Linked DNA regions of Homo sapiens: regions 2, 3, 4, 5, 6 and 7 are each reported to be linked to region 1. The links are microRNA targets in miRTarBase. Many come from high-throughput screens and were not tested one by one. Region 1 holds a microRNA gene; each other region holds the end of a gene's coding sequence.
Evidence for each region. The annotated mature microRNA hsa-miR-200b-3p reads UAAUACUGCCUGGUAAUGAUGA and lies in region 1 at 1,191-1,212, shown strand. An mRNA with a match to its seed (bases 2 to 7 or 8) in the 3' UTR can be bound and repressed. Matches are read on the target gene's strand: a 7mer-m8 pairs with bases 2 to 8, a 7mer-A1 pairs with bases 2 to 7 and ends in A, and an 8mer does both.

Region 1 (3,081 bases):
TGGCCTTTGGAGGAGGAGACTGGAACCGGGTGGACCCGGCAGCAGGCGGGGGCGGGCGGACACGACCTTTGTTGTGGTCGGCGGGCAGACAGGGGAATCGGCACAGGGCCTGCGCCCCACCTACAGCCTCTGTGGGTGGAAGGTGCCAGAAAACTTGAAGAGTGGCTCTGGCCAGCTCTCTGGGCCCAGTTGGCACCAGGTGGTTGCAGAGAAAGGGTGGGAAGGAGGACAGGAAGGACGGCGTGTCCAGCGGGCGGGGAGCCTTGGTCTGGCCTGAGGGCTGAACCTCCCTCGGGTCCTGAGTGTGCCTGGAGTAGAAGCCTAGGGTCTCTGGGCTCCAGGCAGGGCCCTGAGCAAGGAGGGGCCACAGGGCTGCCCACTTCCTCCTGCCCCCCTGCAGAGGCGGCTCAGCCCTCGCGGCGTCTGAGGCTTGACTGCCTGTGTCTGTGTTTGTGGCCGGTCTGCCTCTGTGCCTGGGTCAGACCCCAGACCAGCAGACACACAAACCGCAGGGACGGCTGGGCAGGGTCAGGAGCCTGCCCCGCCCGCACCCCCACCCACACCCCCACCCCCACCCCCGCCTGCACCCCCTGCCCTCAGACGCTGTGCAGTGAGCGGGGCAGCATGGGAGAGGGGTCTCCAGGTGGCGGGGACCGTTCTGTCTCGAGAGCCTCGCAGACACCGGGCCTTTGAGAAGAGAAGGGGCTGGGCAGGGAAGCAGCTCCTGGAACACCATCCTGGAGACAGAGGCCCTTGTCCCCTGCCTCAGACAAGGCAGCACGTGGGGCCCGGGGGGCTGGGGCTGCTGTCCAGGCCTTCCTATGGGACCACCCAGAGGGAAGGTCCCCCGCAGAGGGGTGGGGGCAGAGGGCCGAGCGGGGCGGGCAGAGGGCCCGTGTCAGCCCCACTCCGACCTAGTCCTCGGCCGTCTGGCCAGGACACTTCGGCCCCCCAGGTGCCCACCCCAGGACCCAAAGCTGGTGGCTGCTGGACTCGGCAGGGCTGGCGGGTGGGGCTCACCCGGGCCCCTGCCCTCCGGCGATGCTGTCCTCAGTGCCCCAGGAGGACGAGGCCCCCCAGCTACTGAGCTTCCCAGCGAGTCCCATGCAACCCTCAGCCGGGCGGCCCCCGGACCCAGCTCGGGCAGCCGTGGCCATCTTACTGGGCAGCATTGGATGGAGTCAGGTCTCTAATACTGCCTGGTAATGATGACGGCGGAGCCCTGCACGCAGCGACCGGCCGACCCCGTCCCGGCCCCCAGGGCCTCCCGCCGAGCCCCACACTCCCCTCCCACACAGCCCGCTCACCGGACCCCACCCCGTCCGGGCCAGATGGCTCTGGGGAGAGTGACGGGGGGACGTGACCTTCGGAAGGGGGCTGGGGCGCCCCCCACCAGCATCTCAGAGACCCCGGAATGCAAGGCCTCCTGCAGCTGCACCCAGGGCGCCCCACAGTGATCTGGGGATTAGGACGCTCAGGTGTCCGGGCCCTGCCCACAGCGCCTGGGCGGGAGCTGCTGTCACACCCAGCAGGTGCGGGCCGAGCAGGACCCAACAGAGGGCTCAGGAGGGCAAGGCCCAACCGGGAGCCACGTGGAACCCAGAGGAAGCCGCCCCACCCAGCTTGGCCACAGCCATCTTCCCTCCTGCCGGACAGGGTGGGCCGGCCACCGAGCAGACCAGTGCCCCCGCCTTGGTCCCGGGTCAGCAGCCCCAGGGTCCCCTTGCCCTGGAGGAAGCAGGGAGGGTGGGCCTGTGTGCAGTCTCAGGGCCCCCAAGCCCCTCTCCGCCAGCCCTGTCCGGTCCCGGCACCACCCCTGGCTGCTCACCGCTCCGGTTCTTCCCTGGGCTTCCACAGCAGCCCCTGCCTGCCTGGCGGGACCCCACGTCCCTCCCGGGCCCCTGTGAGCATCTTACCGGACAGTGCTGGATTTCCCAGCTTGACTCTAACACTGTCTGGTAACGATGTTCAAAGGTGACCCGCCGCTCGCCGGGGACACCACCGAGGCACATCCGGAGCTCCTACTCCAGGGATGGGCTGGGGCGGAGGGCCGAGCGGGGCCAGCAGACGGGTGAGGGCGGAGGGCCGAGCGGGGCCAGCAGACGGGTGAGGGCGGAGGGCCGAGCGGGGCCAGCAGACGGGTGAGGGCGGAGGGCTGAGCGGGCGGCAGAGGGCCTGTGTCAGCTCCGAAGTCCAGCCCCCAGGGGAGGGGCCGGCCTCTGCCGGGGGTGCCCCCGGGGTCACTCACGCCCAGGCTGGGTCTGACACCTTGAGGACCCCTTGGTGCCTCCACAGGTGGCCTGGAGGGCATCCTGCTCCCCCTCCCGGAGCCGCTGTGCCTCCCCCACCCAACCTCCCAGGCTGGGTTTTAGGGTGACCTGGCTCCAGGAAAGGCCATAGGGCTGGGATGCCAGGGCTGGAGAGGGAAGAGCAACAGTGGCCTCTCTCACGTGGTCCGGGCTCCGTGGAGGGTCTGCTGGGGGCGCAGGAAGGACAAGGTGGGTTCAGATTCCCGAGCCCCACCATGCAGGGGAGCGGGGACGCTCTGCGCTTGCCCTCTGAGGGACAAGGGGTCTCATTCCTTCCCCCAGTCAACAAGAACAGGAACTTTGTCCAAAACCCACCAGGCCAGGATGACCCATTGTTTCATCTTTTCCATCTGCAACCAGGGCGCCTGGGACCGCACCCCCACACAAGGCCCCAGCCTGGGGAGGGGGCAGCCACCGGGGAGAGGCTGCCCTTCACTGTTACTCATTAACCCGACCGAGCTTCAGGAAGCCAGCGAGGGGCTGCAGGGAACCTTTGCCAAGAGCAGGGCCTGGGTGACCAGGTGGCTCCCGGGTACCCCCACACAGCCAGGCTGGGCTGGGACCAGGTGCTGGGATGGGGGCTGTCAGGGAAGTGCCTCGGGGGCTCGTTCTGCAGACCCAGGAGGGATCAGGGCAGCTGCAGGAGGTGGCAGGAGCCGCCCCCGGGGCCTTCCCTTCACAGGCCCCGCAGACACCAGCCCAGGACCCGGAGGCCACCCACACCACCGCCGGCCGATGGGCGTCTTACCAGACATGGTTAGACCTGGCCCTC
Region 2 (3,074 bases), not on the chromosome of region 1:
ATACTTTTCAGTCCTTTTCCTGATTACATCTCCTTCCTTCTTGAAAGTCTTTATTCCTTTGGCTTCCCTGACATCATTTTTATTGGATTACTTTCTCTATTTCTTCCTTTTTGTTTTGGGTGTCTCCTTCTGCCTACTCCTTAAACTTGGTTTTCTCAAGAAGTTAGTCCTTGGGTTACTTTTCTGTAACCCTGCATTCTCCCTAGGTAATTTAATCCACTCTCGGTTTTGATTACTGTCCACATGGGGTGTATTACTGCTCTCAAATATCTGGCTCCTATTCCAACTTCTGTCTCACACTTCGGGTTTTTATAGCCAGTTATCTTTGGGATACCTGTTTGAAACAACTCTGGTTATACTCTACTACCAACTTTTGCCACATGCATTCCTTCATGTTGAAATGGCATCATCCAGCAATTTCTCCTATTCCCCAACTTCCCATACCTGACGATCATATCTGAATAGTCATTTCTCTCTTCAAGCTACATATCAGAAGTCTTATTGTTTAAAGAAATTCTAGGCCGGGTGCAGTGGCTCACGCCTGTAATCCCACCACTTTGGGAGGCTGAGGTGGCGGATCACCTGAGGTCAGGAGTTTGAGAGCAGCCTGGCCAACGTGGTGAAACCCCGTCTCTACTAAAAAATACAAAAATTAGACGGACGAGATGGCGGGCGTCTGTAATCCCAGCTACTTGGGAGGCTGAGGCAGGAGAATCACTTGAACCTGGGAGGCAAAGGCTGTAGTGAGCTGAGATCACGCCATTGCACTCCAACCTGGGCGACAAGAATGAAGCTCCATCTCAAAAAAAACAAAAAACAAACAAAAAAAAACCTTTTTTTTTTTTTTAAATCATCTATAGATTTTAAGGCCCTAAACAGTCCATAGCAAAAAACTAGTGTGTATATTTAGTTGGTTGAGGCACTTCTTTCTAATCATGAAAAGTTGAGCAACTATATGCTACCATAGTGCTGAGCCACCAGTTATTTTTGCACATTAACAAGTGGAGCCCTAGTTTAACTCTAAAAATCGCCATGTAGAGCTTACTTATACTTTCAAATAAATTTACATGAATTTACTTAATATATTAAAATGCCACTTAAGTAATTCCATAAACTATGGCTCAGCAGTCCATCTTTCCTTGAGAGTGGCCCTGGTTAATCTTTATGTTAATTTTTTTCCAAGACTCCTGGGTTTTACAGTTAAGAGGTTCAGTTAATCATTAAACTGTATCGTTGTTAGCACGTAGGTAGCTTTATATTACTTGTACCAACAAAACTTAATTTTTGACACACCTCTAATAACATCACTTTTCTGTTTTGGAAGATCAAAGCCATCGGCCAGACAGAGTTGAATGCAAGCAATCCAGAAGAAGTGTTACAGCTGGCAGCGCAGAGAAGGAAAAAAAAGTTTCTCCAAGCAATGGCAAAACTTTACTTTTAAGCAGTTAAATTTTTTTAACTTTTATTTTTTAAACAATGGGCTAAAAATAAACAGTATTAAAAGGTTAAGTTTATATAATACATATGTACACAATTAGTGGTGTTTTCTTTTCAGACAAAATACTGAAACAAATATTAGTTTAAAAACAAACTATACAGAAGACTTCATACCGTAACAATAAATGTATAGTTTCTTCAAAGGGAGAAGAGATTCACATATCTGATAACAAAATAAACTAGCAATCTAGTTTTCTAATCTACTTTATGAGGCTGGATTTTTTTTTTAGAAAAGCTAATTTAAAATATTTAGAAATAGCTAGCCTATGTACAGCAAGTTTTCATGTCTTTTTTTAATAAATAGATTTCTAGGAGTCAGTATATATTTAATACTCTTCTTCCTTAAGAAAATAGAAGTTTAGGTCAAGTGTTAAGCTTTATCACTTTGACACTGTCCTTATCTCACAATGGAGGAATTTAGAAAGGACCTTAACAGTTTCACAAACATAAATAAAGCCTTAGTCACACTAAATTAAAAAAAAAAATTCCTTAGGGATATCTTAGAGTAGTAAAGTGACTTCCTCATATAAATAGTTTGAAAGGGTACTTAAGTTTTTCACCCAAATTGTGATATACAAAAAGGTTATTACCAAGCAACCTACATGTCAAGAAAGCCCCAGTTAGGAAGGAGCCACAGCATTTATCTTGTTTATAATTTCTTTGGTACTCCCACTGTTTAGAGCACAGGTTGAACACCATGTTCATCTAAGCCTTATTAGTTAAAAAATGTGTTATGGCAAGGCAAATAAACTAGTTTAAAAAACATTAAATTTCACCATTTGTAGAAATTCAAGTTTTATAATAGCTTGCTATAGCAGCTATAGATAAATTAGTCACCTTATTACAAAACTAAACCTTTGTAAACAAGTTTAAATTTAATTTTCAAGAACCAAATTGCACTAGTCAAGAGTGTAGGAATTTTGAGAATCTAACAACTAGATTCAAAGTACTGTATCACTTAGTATACCCTTTAAGGTAGCACTTATCCAGTCCAAAACTCCAGTGACAAAATTCCTAGTTTATCAAGATAAACACAGTAACACTGGATTAAAGGAAAAACATTGCTATGGTATAGACTGTGGTTGGCTTCTATCCAGTAACCTTGGGAATGAAGACATCTTTGTAAACAAGTCCTGCTGTTTCTTTAACAGCTAACATAGGAAATAATTAAATGTATTCTTTAGTGCCAATTGTAAGTTTTAAAATCAGAATGGCAGTGTAACTTGTGAATTGGCTAGGGCAATCAATCACAGCACTACTTTCTGTAAAACTTTAGTAGTTCAGTGATACCAGTTCTACCCAATCTTGGTGAATTCCAACTTGTTTGCTTAGTTATCTTCTTTAGTGTTTTCCTGGTGGTTTTTCAGTGCTCTTCGGTGGTGTCATAATGCCTCCATTGCACACTGGTGACAACTGTCCCCCTTTTCTGAAGGTGTTTATGTAATTTACTTCCTCCTATACATGGGAAGAAATCATGCACTGATTTCATAAATCAAAGTCAAACCAGACTTCTGGGTACTTATTTGAGATTATTTAGGCCTAATTTTAATAGTCTTTTTATGTCTTTGCAAGTGTGA
Region 3 (3,065 bases), not on the chromosome of region 1:
GCCGCAGACCTGGGGGTGAACCCAGTCCCGAAGGCACTACTGGCCAGTCCTACAACCAGTATTCTCAGAGATACCATCAGAGAACAAACACTGTAAGTGCATTAGCAGCACAAGTGTGTTCCCTCATACTAGACAGTCTCTTTCTACAGGTATCTTTCTTCAGAATGAACCAAGTGTTTTAATTAATTAAAAAAAAAAACAACTCATAAATGACTTAAGTGAAACACTGTATTCCATAATATAGTTTAAGTTATAATTTATGTAACTCTTGAACATCTCCTATTGCCCAGTATGCTGCTAGGTTCTTGAAACTAGGAAGAAATATTATCCTATCTATAAGCAGCTGTCATGAGTCCCCACCTCCCCGCATTTTTTTTTCTGTACACTTTACAGTATTTGCCACTAATTTTTTTTTCCTTCTTCCTTTTTAACAGAATGTTAATTGCCCAATTGAGTGCTTCATGCCTTTAGATGTACAGGCTGACAGAGAAGATTCCCGAGAGTAAATCATCTTTCCAATCCAGAGGAACAAGCATGTCTCTCTGCCAAGATCCATCTAAACTGGAGTGATGTTAGCAGACCCAGCTTAGAGTTCTTCTTTCTTTCTTAAGCCCTTTGCTCTGGAGGAAGTTCTCCAGCTTCAGCTCAACTCACAGCTTCTCCAAGCATCACCCTGGGAGTTTCCTGAGGGTTTTCTCATAAATGAGGGCTGCACATTGCCTGTTCTGCTTCGAAGTATTCAATACCGCTCAGTATTTTAAATGAAGTGATTCTAAGATTTGGTTTGGGATCAATAGGAAAGCATATGCAGCCAACCAAGATGCAAATGTTTTGAAATGATATGACCAAAATTTTAAGTAGGAAAGTCACCCAAACACTTCTGCTTTCACTTAAGTGTCTGGCCCGCAATACTGTAGGAACAAGCATGATCTTGTTACTGTGATATTTTAAATATCCACAGTACTCACTTTTTCCAAATGATCCTAGTAATTGCCTAGAAATATCTTTCTCTTACCTGTTATTTATCAATTTTTCCCAGTATTTTTATACGGAAAAAATTGTATTGAAAACACTTAGTATGCAGTTGATAAGAGGAATTTGGTATAATTATGGTGGGTGATTATTTTTTATACTGTATGTGCCAAAGCTTTACTACTGTGGAAAGACAACTGTTTTAATAAAAGATTTACATTCCACAACTTGAAGTTCATCTATTTGATATAAGACACCTTCGGGGGAAATAATTCCTGTGAATATTCTTTTTCAATTCAGCAAACATTTGAAAATCTATGATGTGCAAGTCTAATTGTTGATTTCAGTACAAGATTTTCTAAATCAGTTGCTACAAAAACTGATTGGTTTTTGTCACTTCATCTCTTCACTAATGGAGATAGCTTTACACTTTCTGCTTTAATAGATTTAAGTGGACCCCAATATTTATTAAAATTGCTAGTTTACCGTTCAGAAGTATAATAGAAATAATCTTTAGTTGCTCTTTTCTAACCATTGTAATTCTTCCCTTCTTCCCTCCACCTTTCCTTCATTGAATAAACCTCTGTTCAAAGAGATTGCCTGCAAGGGAAATAAAAATGACTAAGATATTAAAAGTATTTGAATAGTATAATATGGAGGAGTTTTATCTTAGGGAAACCCCATGGTATGATAACCCCCATCTAACATGTCTTACTTTGGGTCAGCTGACACTTTTGGCATGGCTTGATAAACTCCCAGCTAAACAGTTTGTTTACTCCTGATCTGTAAAGGTCATTTCTTTTTCAATTTAACATTGAGGAAACAAACTTTGGGATTAAATTTGACATTCAGGCCAGGCGCAGTGGCTCACACCTCTAATCCCAGCACTTTGGGAGGCTGAGGCAGGTGGATCACCTGAGGTCAGGAGTTTGAGACCAGCCTGGCCAACATGGTGAAACCTTGTCTCTATTAAAAATACAAATGTTACCAGGCATGGCAGTGGGCGTCTTTGGTCCCGGCTACTCAGAAGGCTGAGGTAGGAGAATGGCTTGAACCCAGAAGGCGGAGGTTGCAGTGAGCTGAGATTGTGCCATTGAACTCCAGCATGGGGGACAGAGCAAGACTCCATCCCAAAAAACATAAATAAATAAATGTGACATTCAGAATAGTAAATAGTGGAAATGGAAATAATTATTAGTAAAAAATTAGTAGTTCATAATAAACAAGACATGCAAAGCACTTTTTAAATATACTAATGTACAATGAAAGAAGGTATTTCAATAAACACCTGGCAAAGAATATTAAAACTAAATACAGAAAGATACTTCCTCATGTTCATTTGAAAAAAAAAAATACTAACTCCCATTTGAATTGATTTACAGTTTATAAAATGCTTTGACATTTAGCTATCTCATTTAGGGGAGGTTTTAGAGCTTAATTTTACAGGGCATGAAGCTCAGATGAGGTTTCCTTAGCGAAATACAGACCCAGCCCCTGGACTTCTATTTATTACTGATCTTTAAGCTTTATCAGCCCAATAGTCACCAAGAGAGCTGCTCTGTATGTTTTTTAAAAATCACAGAAAGTACAAAATAAAGGTGATATTAAACGACTGTCTCACATATGTCGGTCATCACTGCACCCTGGAGAGAGAACGTCATCTCGATGCCAATCTACACACTGTGGGAAGGGACAACCCCCTGAGACACATGTGCTGCAAAAAGTAAGCTGATGCTTCCATATTCATAGGTGAGCTGGTAAAGCAGGCCCTTCATCTGAATCTTGCTTAAAGCCTTGATATCTAAAAACATAAGGAAAGAGCAGCTTTAGGTTGAGACTGATGATGCTTCAAACCACTTGCCTAACTACAAACCTAAAAATATTTACCCTAAAATGCAGTGTAAGGGCCGGGAAGGGTGGTTCACACCTGTAATCCCAGTACTTTGAGGCGCCGAGGTGGGAGGGTTGCTTGAGCTCGGGAGTTCAAGGCCAGTCTGGGTAACATAGCGAGACCCCTGTCTCTACAAAAAATAAAACAATTAGCCAGGCATGGTGGCACATGCCTGTGGTCCCCATAACTCGGGAGACTGAGA
Region 4 (3,081 bases), not on the chromosome of region 1:
AGGATCATGGGGCTCTTCCACTCCTGGTGATTGAATTCCGTGGGATTGATTGGAGGGATTACAATCATGTAGCCTGTAGCAGAGACCTCAGTCACTGTGCAGAGAGATCTGGAAGCCTCATTCTGGAAACGAGTGGGACTTGATTTGGGATTTTGGGGAAAATGACGGCCTTTTTTCCCTCCTCTTTTTGTAGGCAGAACAGTATCAAAAGAAGAATCGGAAGATGCTTGTGATTTTAATATTATTTGTCATCATCATTGTGCTCATTGTTGTCCTCGTTGGCGTGAAGTCTCGATAAGTGGCATTGGGTTTTCGTGTGTGCCGCGCGTGTGGATCTCCCGGGTGTGAGGGGCTTGGCCTGCGCCCCGCCAGCTGCCCGCAGAGGTGCAGCCTCGAGGAATCTGAGGGCGTCGGGGCAGCGAACCTTTGCATCCACGGACTCCTCCTTCCCTAGTCCTGCTCAAGCGGTCCGGGGAATGGGTTTTTGTTTTTCCTTCATTGTTGAGAATTTAAGGACCTTTGATACTGCTGCACAATAGAGATTGAGTTCTGGGATCAGTTATAATATATATTTTTTTTAGAAAGAGAAAATGAGCTGAGAGTTTACAGGCACTGCAGAAGCTGTTCAGTATTATATGTGTATATGCTATTTTTTTAGCAGCCATGTCTGAGCAGAATGTTAACATAATTTTTGGAAAAATTTTCTTTAAACCATCTGGTTTTTAAGAAATTTGGTACCAAAAATTGATGAGTAGAGGCAAAAATGCCCCTTCATCTTTCTCTATATATTTTCCAGTTGAAAACAAACTAAGAAGTCCTTTAAGAATTTATAATCCGTTCCCCATTAACTTAATTTAGCTTTTCCATCACTGTTAATGATCAGAGTAACAAAGTGTGAAAAATAAGAAACCATCATTGATGTTAATTAACACATTTAGATGGGCCAGTTAAAACAGCTTCATAAGTTTTAAATTAATTGTAAATGGAATATTCCTCATTTAAAATTTTTGCACTGCATTTTCTACTGTAAACCAAAAGAGGTTACTAAGCAAAACCACCTAAATTTAAGTTGGTGATTTAAATGAATCTCACATTAAAAGAAAGCTTGACAGTGTTATGAAAGCCACCAGACTCAGCCAGTGTGTCCCCATGGGTATCCCCAGCCATCCTTGCTCAATCCATTACTTATATACTAACTACATAATGACCTGTTCAAACCAGACTCTATTTAATGAACTGTGAATTTACACAGAGGCCATTTTAAATGGGTCACCCCATTTAGGATTAGTGGATCTCAAATTATTAACCAAACATCACTCCATTTCAAAGTAAAATATTCCACCAGCGATTTGATTTATTGGCTCTTCCATTGCCACTGAGCAATGCCCAGGAAGCAGGCACATTGCCAAGGACTGGGGGCATCTTGACTAGGAAGCTCCTCGTTTGTGTGAGCGTGGGTCAGACCGCCAAAGTAGGACTTCATCGTTTACCTACCTATTATCAATATGGTGCTTGAATATATTCCTATAACTGTAGAACAGTGTGGAAAGTGATGGTAACTTTGAAGTTGTTCATGTTTTATTGGCTTTGTTTTAATTGACACTAGTAGAGTTTTAATGGTCTTTGTGTAAATTTTAATGGCTTTTCCATTGTTTTTGCTTCTCTTAAAAAGTTTAAGAAGAATATGACCTCATTAAATGTGCTGTTTTATTTGGACCAGTCACACAAAATGTCTCTCTAGAGTTGACTTTAAAGTTGTTTACAGAAATTTAAACTCAATTCCAGAGATTGAAGTTGTCCAAACAGCTCATGGGCTTAGTGTCCAAACCCCTGCCCAGCCTTCCCTTTCCAAGTTGGTGCCACCTCCAGGTAGCCATTGGTGGTTTTCCTATTACTGATGTGGCTGTGGAATGATAAGGTCCTAGAGGGGCCCTGGCATTTCAGGAAGCGGACCTGGTATTCCCTGACAAACATTGCTTAGGAAAGAGGGCCGGAGAATAAGAAGCCAGCACCTCATCAGTCAGCCCTGCAATGTGAGACTTCCGTAGCTGTTGAGAGTCACTGCAGGTGTTCTTTCATCCCATCTGATTTTAACCCATGGTTGAGACGTTCCAAGTTAGATCTGCTGCTCTTAGGTGTGGGGCTGTCCACATTAGGGAACTTGCCTCAAAAACAGTCCACAGTGGCAATACCGGACTTCTGTTCAAGCTTTTTAAAGTGCTGAGCCTTACAAACCCCTGAAGGAAAGTGACCCTTTAAGAGAGGATCATCTTTTTTTATATTTATTTTCACCAAATAGGGTGATGAGGGTTGGTTTTTGTTCCCTCAACCCATTTGGGTAAAATAACGGATCTGATTAGAAACTGTTTTAAGGAGGGGCTGGGCTCGGTGGCTCACGCCTGTAATCCCAGACTTTGAGAGGCCAAGGCGGTCACGAGGTCAGGAGTTCGAGACCAGCCTAGCCAACATGGTGAAACCCCGTCTCTACAAAAAATACAAAAATTAGCCGGGTGGGACACGCCTGTAATCCCAGCTACTCAAGAGGCTGAGGCAGGAGAATAGCTTGAACCCGGGAGGCAGAGGTTGCAGTGAGCCGAGATCACACCACTGCACTCCAGCCTGGGTGACAGAGCGAGGCTCCGTCTCAAAAAAAAAAAAAAAAAATTGTTTTAGCGCTGGGTTTCCCAAGGTGGGAGAGACAGACCCAGCCTGGAGCTGGCCCCTGGCCTGTGTGCTGACTTCTTGGGGTCCTCAAACCACTGTATTTTTCTGTTGAGCCTGTACTTGGGGAGAGATCAGTAGCATTTGAGGAAGTAAGAGAAAAGAATCATGGTACCTCAGGGTTTCTTTCCCTTTACTCGCTGGCAGCCATTGTCTGTGGGCACCTCATGTTTTTCCACACTCTACTGGGCCGTGGAGGTAACGATCACCCAGGCCAGTCTCCTCTGCCTGGGATGCGCCCTCTGAGAGGAGGCCTAGCAGGGCAGGCTCCCTCTGGGCATCCCTGGATGCAGCCTCTGGACACATGCCTCCTTTAAAGTGTCCGGGTGCAGCTCAGGTTGAGTGGAGGTAGAAGGAGAA
Region 5 (3,081 bases), not on the chromosome of region 1:
AGGGTCAACTGTTAGCAATTTTATATCATCTAGCCTAGGTGAGGGTTCATGAGCTGCTGTGCATATGAAGTACTATGCATAGTGTCTTGGACATAGTAAGCAAACGCACTGAATTCGTAGAATGCTTATTATTGCTGTTGTTTTTTTTTACCTTTTTTTTTTTTTTTTTTTTTTTGGCTAGATGTTCTACCCATAGTAAAATAATCTAATTTGGATTTGGCCTCTTTATTTCCTCTCATCGTGTTGTAGGAATGAACATAAGCAACAAAGTAGCTAAAGAGGGGTCAGTAATGGAAGCAAAGGAGCAGGGCACTTGACTGCACTGTTACCTGGTGTGACCTTGGTGTTACCCAGGTGGCCGGGAAGGTCCTGGGCAGGGGTGTGTTGCTGGCTGCTCTCCATCTGAGCCTGTTTCTTGTCTCCAGGTACACCGTGCTCCGGCTAATGATTCGACAGAGGCTGGAGGAGATAGCCGAGACCCCAGCAACAATCTGAGCCATGAGAACGAGGGGATCTGGGCACCCCAGGAACCGCCATTGCCCATAAGACCCCCAGGAAGCTAGGCACTTTCTTTCCATGGAAACATTTAGACACAAACCTCCCCAGCTCCGGCCAAGCCATCATTTGCTACCTGGAGCTGGATGTAGAAGTCAGCAGACAGCTCCCTATCCCTGGACCCCTGCCCTCCTTTTTTCTGCTCACAAGGACTTTTGATTTTAGTTATAAGGAGGACCCAAAATGTGTGTGTGTACATGTGTGTGCACACATGGTACGTGTCCATGTGCCTACCTGATACTTTCACATGTAATTAAATTCCAGGCAACCAGCACAAGAGCCGTGAGCTTGGCACATGTGCTGCTCGTGAGCAGGAAAATCAGAGGAGCCACTGATCTGAGTGGTATTTAGGTTGAAGGAAAGATTTCTCCTCTCAAGTGCCAGGGAGCAGCCACACGTCTGTCTGTGTTTAGAGAGGGAAGAGGGTTCTCCAGGTTCACCATTTGGGTTGTTTATATGTTGGTAGAAATTCTCCCTGTATGCCTAGAAGGATCAGTGAATGTAAGAGCCTTGGAAATTAACAAAATAACAGCCACATAACCTTGCGGCAAGTCTGATGGAAAGAAAAAGATAAACCATCCGTGGGGTAGATGCAATAAGCCCACGTATTTTTACACTGGAAACGTTGATTGTTTTAAATGACAAAGACATATGTGATGTTCTATGTGGAAACCTGTGAAGAGTGGATTCTGCCTCCATCTCTGCCTCCATGGCTACCTTTAGGAGACAGAGAAGATCCTGTGTGTTTCTCTGTACCCAGCTGACAGCCTGTCTCTATGGCGCTTCCTTGAGTGGAAGGAAATGTCTCAAGAAACAAAGATCTCGCTGGTGCGTACACAGTGCTGACCAGCTAGTGTGGCCAGGGCCTGGTGGCCTGGTGGCCAGGAAGTTTCAGGTTGAAGGGAAATGTCGAGGCTACCTGCAGATATGACAGGTGCCTTGAACGCAGCCCATCTTCATGTCATCAAAGGTCTTCCTGCACTTGAAGCTGGGGCGATGTTTGCAGTCAAGACCATTCTTTCCAACCTCTGGGTTCTTGCAAGTTGCCCTCACCTTGTGTGTGGAGATGCATTCCAAGAATGAAGCCTCATCTTGCTACTGAGTGTGGGGTTCAGGGAAGCTCTTTAGGCCACCTGGTGAAGGTGCATGGGGAGGATGGAGCTTCTCCTCAGCTCCTCTGAGCAGCCACCTATGTGATCTTTAAATCCAACCCCAATGGGAGAAAAGGGCAAGAACAGTCTGTGCCCTGGGACTCCTATCAGGAAGCTTGACAGGCAGCTGGGCATCAGTGCAGCTGATATCGTTTGAGGAGGGAGACAGATGCTTGGACCTGGGTGCCTGGCTATGGAGATTGACCAAGCAAGATCAGGAGCTCCTGATAGCAGGCGTCTTTGAGCCTAGCTGGGGTAGAGGCACTGCCCATCTCTTCTCCACCTTCTCTCCACAGAATGTTTGCAGAGCTGGGCAGTTGAGGAAAGGACAGCCCCTGGTTGGTGCCTCCAAAGGAAGGTGGACTTTTTTGGTGGAGACGTTTCTGCCCTGGGCACCCTCCTGCCCCCGATTCATACCTATGGCTTCTTGAGAAGGCTCACAGCTGTGGTCTTAACGTAGACTGCAGAAAGATGGCATGCGGCCCCTGGCATTTCGCCAAGGGTTTTATAGCAAGTCTCCTTCCTCCATAGGGACAGCAGCACCAGCCCTGTGGGGCATGGAGTGGAAGCCCAGAAGGGCTTCTGCAAGCTGCACAGAACTGGGGTAAGAAGACAAAGAGTAGCCACCGGGAGAGGCTTCCTTTGTTACAGCTGGGAAAGAACAGTTCTGTGAATGCAAACACCTCCTGAGTTTTGCAATTGAGAAAATGATTTGGAGAACTTCTCTTCTGGTAATTTTTATTTTGAATGTTCAGGGCCTTAGTTGGCCCCAGTAATTCTCCTTGGAGGACTTGGGAGAAGAATTTCCACAAAGCAAACTACTAACCACTAGCTCTTACTGGACAGCGATTTCTGGCTTATAAGAGTTCTCTTTGATTTGCACTAGCACTACGATAGTGTTAGATGGGGAAATACTGCAACATGTCCAGTTGGCCAGATCACTTTCCAAGGGAGCGATACTAAGGCAGACTCAGCTTTTTAAAGATGGGAGGTCAGGAGGTGGAAGTGAGAGGAGATCCCATCTCACACAACACACTTCCACGTAATGCAGACCACACTTTTCCATTTTGTCCTGCCCTCTTGAGAGGTCATTTCTCACGTCCTAAGAACCTGATCAGAAATTTTGGAAGGGTTCTTTGAAATAGCAGCAGTTGAAACAGAGACACTTTGCCACAGTGTGGAGCAGATTTTCTCACTGGTATCACATGGTCTTGCAGTTTTGAACTCTTCGACCGATTTGTGGGAGTTTATGTAATTGCGTGCAATGAACCTGAAATTGTGTAAAGGACAAAAGACCAGTTTATAGGGTTGGGTTTTTTTTCCAACTTGTGAAAAGCAGTTTAGCTGCATCTGTCTCCCCACCACCCCCACCCCG
Region 6 (3,081 bases), not on the chromosome of region 1:
TTTTATATCTGGTAATTTCATACTGGAGAAGATTCCATTCCTTGAAATGCACTAGCAAAATACTGTACATTCCAGTGAGTTATCCTGCCCCTTTCCTCCAAAAGATGCCAAAGTACATGATTACAGACATAAAATAACAGGTTCTGAGTTCTGCCTTTCAGTGAGAATAAAGGGTATGATAGTGGCTGTGCATGGATGACTTGTATCTCAGCGTTAATAGAATTTGATCTGGGGAAAGTTCCTTGCCATAGTTCCTGAGTTGAAAACATAATTACATCTGTGGAGAAAGGACCAAATGGAGTGAACTATTGTTTAGAGTATTAAGTTACTATAGTTCAGATTAAACAACACACTTACCCAAAACTTAATTTGGATGGATTTTATATAAAATATATAATAGAATCATACCATCATCTATTTGTAGCCAAAGTAAAAAGATTTATGAGAAGAATAAGGACTCTGCTATAGATCTGGATGTTGGTTTCACTTTCAAACACAAAAATAGTTTCTTTTTAAAAAAGTACAGTAGAATATCCTCCATTCATAATTGTAATTAATTTAGCATAAGCAAAGAAATGACCTTAGGAACATACCCAGGTTTTAAGATAGATTTCTAGGTAATGGGCCTGAAAGGCATTTTGATCTGAATTTATTTTCCAACGATTTCAAATATAATTTGTCATCTGTGTGTAGACATATACGGGCATGAACACACATTCACCCACACATACAAAAACACTTGCTTTCTATCAGATCAGGGTAATTTTTTTATTGCAGGTCTCTTTTAATATTGGCTAGCAGAAAACCTATCCCCAACCTAACAGATTACACACACACACACACACACACACACACACACACACAGAGCTATTTTTCCACACTTCCTCACAGTGAAAAGCTCTCTAACAAGATACCAGAAGGTCGAGAGAGACAATGCTTTTATGGCTGGGCCTTGAGGACAATTCTGGTTGCATTTAAATCTCAGTGCCAAATGCACTAGGTTCCCTGCCGTTATAATTTTTGGATCAGTCTCTTCTGAAATCAGGTCACAGAGAAAACAGGATGATTTCTCCCAATCTCTCCTATAAAACACTGTGGTAAGACAAGATTTCTTTTTGTTCTGGGCTATCATTCCCATGATCATGTGCTTCCCTTTCCCTTAGGAACCACCCAAGAACATACAAGGAAAAGTTAAGGGAAAACATCATAAGAACCACTGTCTTGCCACTAGCACATGCTTTGGAGGAGTTCTGCAGAATGGAAACCTGAAACAGATTCACTGGCTGATGCTCCTTATTGACAATGGAAAAGAACCTAGTGGGGATGTTCAAAAGAAGTGTATTTCCTTTCAGAATATAAACTCAGAAGCCCACACATCAAAACTTAGAGCTACCTTGGAAGACAGCAGTACCAAAGTCCAAATACTCCACTAACTCCTGAACCTGACTACGAGTCATTTCCTCTTCTGAGCACATGATTTTCCTAGTGAAAGCCCCCTACCTATTATTTGAAAATTTGACAGTTTATACAAACTGAGCCAAGATTATTATCTTCAAAGGGACTCTTGTACAATTCCACTGAAAGACTTCTAATTCTTGATGCTCAGAGCAGCTAATGAAGGGAGATGCCTTTGACTCTCCAGCGCCAAGAAGGTGCCTGCGTCAGTAGTATTTTGAACACTCCCTCCACAGTTACTTCAAGCATCAGCCTGGGCTTCAAGGATTTTTCCATTCTGCTGCTGGAACTAAGGTCCTGAAAAAATTGACAGAAGTGCCTCATCCAGGCAGTAACAAAAACAAAACATGAAGTGATCAGATGAGAGAAGATGAGACGGCAACAGTTGAGTTAGGGAAGGAGTGCAAGAAGCTGATCCCAAACAAAAAGACAAAATTAAGAAAGGAAAAACATTATGTATGTATATATGAACTAAAAGCAGAGCATATGAACGCTTAAGCTGGTGGGAAGCCAAGACAACATCTACAGAAAAGCTTGATGTGTCACAACAAGGCTCAGCCATAGGGAAATAAGGCAATATAAAAAAAATGACCAAGGTATTTTGGTCACAGAATGGTCTTCCTCCTCCCAGCCAACCCCTGTGAATGCATCTCTATATATCTTTATATATATATATATATATATAATAATATAGAATCTGTTTTTTGTTAAAAAGTATTTCAATGATCATATATATTTATCAAGGCATGATGGCTTTAGGAAAGGGGGGGGAATCCATCATGGAAGAGCTGAGAAGAGAAATGCAGGAAGGGTAGGCTGGGGTAAGAAGTGTAAGAAGAAACTGGGGTCAAACAAATGCTCATCAAAGCGTGGCACCAACAGAATTTTCACTAATGTTTCCCACCTTCAAAGAGGCACTGATGATACAGATGGGTGCCGGGACCCCATCTCCTCTCTTGTATCCCTCTCCTGATTCTTCTCAACACCATGCATTTTAATGCTTCATGGCTCTCTCTTCCATGTCTCTTGGACCCATGCTACCTTGCATCCCGGGGTTAAGGGGTATGGCCCATATGTCTCTGGCCCCGGGTGCCTGATCTCAGAAGCCATTGCCACTGATATTAATGGACTGCAGATCTGCCACCTGCATGACGTTGATGCCACTGTTGGCAAGACGGGCAATGCCCTCTGGACAGATGGCCTCCATGGCTACCATATTGGTGGTAATAAGGGCTGAAGGAGTGGCAGTGCCACTGCCTTCTGAACCTGCCCCACTGTCCAGGGGCAAAGTGCCCACACTCAGAGCTACACCTGGGCCTCCCTTCTTATTCTGGTGGGTCTTGATATGTTTTGACAGGTGGTCACTCCTCATGAAGCGCTTAGGACACTCAGGGCAGGCAAATTTCTTCTCACCTAGGTAAAGGAAGAAAAGATAAGAAGCTGACATGTTAGGAAGTGAGGTTACCTTACCCAATTCAGTGCTTACTCTACTAAGCTGAGTAAGGCCAGTATGAGAAGGTGATCAAAAACAAGAAAAATCTTCAAGTGGCTGGGCGTGGTGGCTCACGCTTGTAATCCCAGCACTTTGGGAGGCCAAGGCGGGCAGATCACGAGGTCAGGAGATCA
Region 7 (3,072 bases), not on the chromosome of region 1:
CCACGGCCACAGTCCCAGCCCCCCCACTCCAGTCCTTCCCCAAGGATGCAGCCTCAGCCTTCTCCACACCACGTTTCCCCACAGACAAGTTCCCCACATCCTGGACTGGTAGCTGCCCAGGCCAACCCCATGGAACAAGGGCATTTTGCCAGCCCGGACCAGAATTCAATGCTTTCTCAGCTTGCTAGCAATCCAGGCATGGCAAACCTCCATGGTGCAAGCGCCACGGACCTGGGACTCAGCACCGATAACTCAGACTTGAATTCAAACCTCTCACAGAGTACACTAGACATACACTAGAGACACCTTGTAGTATTTTGGGAGCAAAAAAATTATTTTCTCTTAACAAGACTTTTTGTACTGAAAACAATTTTTTTGAATCTTTCGTAGCCTAAAAGACAATTTTCCTTGGAACACATAAGAACTGTGCAGTAGCCGTTTGTGGTTTAAAGCAAACATGCAAGATGAACCTGAGGGATGATAGAATACAAAGAATATATTTTTGTTATGGCTGGTTACCACCAGCCTTTCTTCCCCTTTGTGTGTGTGGTTCAAGTGTGCACTGGGAGGAGGCTGAGGCCTGTGAAGCCAAACAATATGCTCCTGCCTTGCACCTCCAATAGGTTTTATTATTTTTTTTAAATTAATGAACATATGTAATATTAATAGTTATTATTTACTGGTGCAGATGGTTGACATTTTTCCCTATTTTCCTCACTTTATGGAAGAGTTAAAACATTTCTAAACCAGAGGACAAAAGGGGTTAATGTTACTTTAAAATTACATTCTATATATATATAAATATATATAAATATATATTAAAATACCAGTTTTTTTTCTCTGGGTGCAAAGATGTTCATTCTTTTAAAAAATGTTTAAAAAAAAAAAAAAACTGCCTTTCTTCCCCTCAAGTCAACTTTTGTGCTCCAGAAAATTTTCTATTCTGTAAGTCTGAGCGTAAAACTTCAAGTATTAAAATAATTTGTACATGTAGAGAGAAAAATGACTTTTTCAAAAATATACAGGGGCAGCTGCCAAATTGATGTATTATATATTGTGGTTTCTGTTTCTTGAAAGAATTTTTTTCGTTATTTTTACATCTAACAAAGTAAAAAAATTAAAAAGAGGGTAAGAAACGATTCCGGTGGGATGATTTTAACATGCAAAATGTCCCTGGGGGTTTCTTCTTTGCTTGCTTTCTTCCTCCTTACCCTACCCCCCACTCACACACACACACACACACACACACACACACACACACACACACTTTCTATAAAACTTGAAAATAGCAAAAACCCTCAACTGTTGTAAATCATGCAATTAAAGTTGATTACTTATAAATATGAACTTTGGATCACTGTATAGACTGTTAAATTTGATTTCTTATTACCTATTGTTAAATAAACTGTGTGAGACAGACACCCTGACTTTGTTTCACTTGATAACACATCTTTGTCTTGGAGTACACCCGTTTTAAGTGCCTAATGCTTAGGATTCAGAGGAAAAAGTGAAAGCATTAGCTTATAGCCTCTTTAATCTACTACGTATAATGTATTCACAAGTAGATCTTGGTGAATTTATCCAAAGTTCTGGGAAAAAGTACTGCAGGTACCAGCTAACAGTCAAGGTGGAAGTGATAACCTACTTAACACCTTGATACAGGACCCCTTAAGGATGACCTCATGGTCTTCCAATCACCTTCATCTTACAGGGATGAGAAGGAGGACCTAAGAAGACGGATCATATCTGCCTAAGTCCCAAGTAACTTCTTGGAAAAAACAAGACTTGCCAGGCATGGTGGCTCACGCCTATAATCCCAACATTTTGGGAGGCCAAGGCAGGCAGATCACGAGGTCAGGAGTTCAAGACCAGCCTGGCCAATATGGTGAAACCCCCATCTCTACTAAAAATCAGCAGGGCGTGGTGGTGGGCACCTGCCGTCCCAGCTACTTGGGAGGCTGAGGCAGGAGAATCAGATCCTGGTGGAGGTTGCAGTTAGCCAGGATCTCACCACTGCACTCCAAAGACTCCGTCTTTTAAAAACAGAGAAGATGAAGCTAGGGGAACACTCCTGTTTGCTAACTGAATACAAAGAAGTCAGTTGGAATCGGGTTGAAGGGAAGGAAAATGTGTGGAAATAAAACCTAGAAGGCTGAGAGAGATTACACATGAGTCCAGTAATATGCTAGATGCTCAAAGAATGGAGAGATTATTGATCCTCCATCTGAACATTGCAGTAGCTGTGAACAAGTTGTTAAAACAAATGTGTTAGTACACTAAAAAGTACTGAGCTGCTTTGGTATCAATTCCAGATCTTTCTTTTATCACAGAGATTTACACTAACCATATATGACTGCTAAAGGATTTCAGATACGTTGACCTGTTGCTACTATTTTAGTCTGAAAACAACCAGCATCTTTTTTTTTTAAGACAGTCTCGTCACCCAGGCTGGAATGCAGTGGCACAATTGTAGTTCACTGTAGCCTCAAACTCATGGGCTGAAGCAGTCCTCTTACCTCAGCCTCCCTAGTAGCTGGGACTCAAAGGTGTGTACCATCATGCCTGGCTGACTTTTTAAAATTTTTATAGAGACAGGGTCTTGCTATGTTACCCAGTCTGGTCTCGAACTCCTGGACTCAAGTGATCCTCCACCTTGGCCTCCCAAATTGCTGGGATTACAGGCATGAGCCACCTTACCAGCATCTTAATGTGAGGTGAACTCACTCAGCATTAATCAGAGCCAGCCCCAGAAAATGTATCTAGTATCAAGCATCCAGCATCCACCTGCTTCAGCTCAGTGACCCCGCAGATATCCATGGAGCAGCTACATCTGTGCCAGGCCAGGCAGAGCACACATGAACAGCATGCAGCCCTGCCCTCAACCTAACCAGCTTAAGGTCTAGAAGACAGCATGACAAAGTACAAAGCACCAAGTGATCTATGCAAGGAATGCAAGAGGGAATCCATGAAAGAAAACCTAGCTGATGGGAATTGGAAATGTTTCTGGAAAGGGTAGCATGGAAGCTGGATGTTGGAGGAGAGATAGGAAGAGGAGGAGAGGAGGCGGCGCCC

Region 2: miRTarBase lists CCNE2 as a target of hsa-miR-200b-3p. Seed matches in the 3' UTR shown: 7mer-A1 at 1,825-1,831 and 7mer-m8 at 1,560-1,566.
Region 3: the mRNA of FN1 is a reported target of hsa-miR-200b-3p. Seed matches in the 3' UTR shown: 7mer-m8 at 751-757 and 7mer-m8 at 1,037-1,043.
Region 4: the mRNA of STX16 is a reported target of hsa-miR-200b-3p. Seed matches in the 3' UTR shown: 8mer at 627-634.
Region 5: the mRNA of RASSF2 is a reported target of hsa-miR-200b-3p. The part of its 3' UTR that is shown has no 7-base or 8-base seed match.
Region 6: the mRNA of SP1 is a reported target of hsa-miR-200b-3p. Seed matches in the 3' UTR shown: 7mer-m8 at 59-65.
Region 7: miRTarBase lists EP300 as a target of hsa-miR-200b-3p. Seed matches in the 3' UTR shown: 7mer-A1 at 969-975.

The regions. Positions count from the first base shown.
Region 1 is chr1:1,165,970-1,169,050 of GRCh38, forward strand. MIR200B (microRNA 200b) reads left to right here and starts at 1,135; the gene lies at 1,135-1,229. It overlaps MIR200BHG (MIR200B, MIR200A and MIR429 host gene), which reads left to right. Exons shown (of 2, transcript XR_007065348.1): 2 at 1-3,081. It overlaps MIR200A (microRNA 200a), which reads left to right and starts at 1,894; the gene lies at 1,894-1,983. MIR429 (microRNA 429) reads left to right here and starts at 3,036; the gene lies at 3,036-3,081.
Region 2 is chr8:94,878,794-94,881,867 of GRCh38, forward strand. CCNE2 (cyclin E2) reads right to left here. Exons shown (of 12, transcript NM_057749.3): 12 at 1,431-2,952. The coding sequence ends at 2,839. INTS8 (integrator complex subunit 8) reads left to right here. Exons shown (of 27, transcript NM_017864.4): 27 at 1,325-2,953. The coding sequence ends at 1,441. Among named protein-coding and RNA genes, the nearest start is that of CCNE2, 15 kb to the right of the region's middle.
Region 3 is chr2:215,358,996-215,362,060 of GRCh38, reverse strand. FN1 (fibronectin 1) reads left to right here. Exons shown (of 46, transcript NM_212482.4): 45 at 1-92; 46 at 435-1,196. The coding sequence ends at 506. It also overlaps a transcript of ATIC not described here. Among named protein-coding and RNA genes, the nearest start is that of ATIC, 48 kb to the right of the region's middle.
Region 4 is chr20:58,675,994-58,679,074 of GRCh38, forward strand. STX16 (syntaxin 16) reads left to right here. Exons shown (of 9, transcript NM_001001433.3): 9 at 194-3,081. The coding sequence ends at 298. The region is part of intron 8 of STX16-NPEPL1 (STX16-NPEPL1 readthrough (NMD candidate)); the gene reads left to right. Among named protein-coding and RNA genes, the nearest start is that of NPEPL1, 15 kb to the right of the region's middle. RefSeq lists enhancers at 1-359, 360-884.
Region 5 is chr20:4,781,687-4,784,767 of GRCh38, reverse strand. RASSF2 (Ras association domain family member 2) reads left to right here. Exons shown (of 12, transcript NM_014737.3): 12 at 426-3,081. The coding sequence ends at 495. Among named protein-coding and RNA genes, the nearest start is that of RASSF2, 40 kb to the left of the region's middle.
Region 6 is chr12:53,410,714-53,413,794 of GRCh38, reverse strand. SP1 (Sp1 transcription factor) reads right to left here. Exons shown (of 6, transcript NM_138473.3): 6 at 1-2,868. The coding sequence ends at 2,555. Among named protein-coding and RNA genes, the nearest start is that of AMHR2, 12 kb to the left of the region's middle.
Region 7 is chr22:41,178,657-41,181,728 of GRCh38, forward strand. EP300 (EP300 lysine acetyltransferase) reads left to right here. Exons shown (of 31, transcript NM_001429.4): 31 at 1-1,421. The coding sequence ends at 300. Among named protein-coding and RNA genes, the nearest start is that of EP300-AS1, 17 kb to the right of the region's middle.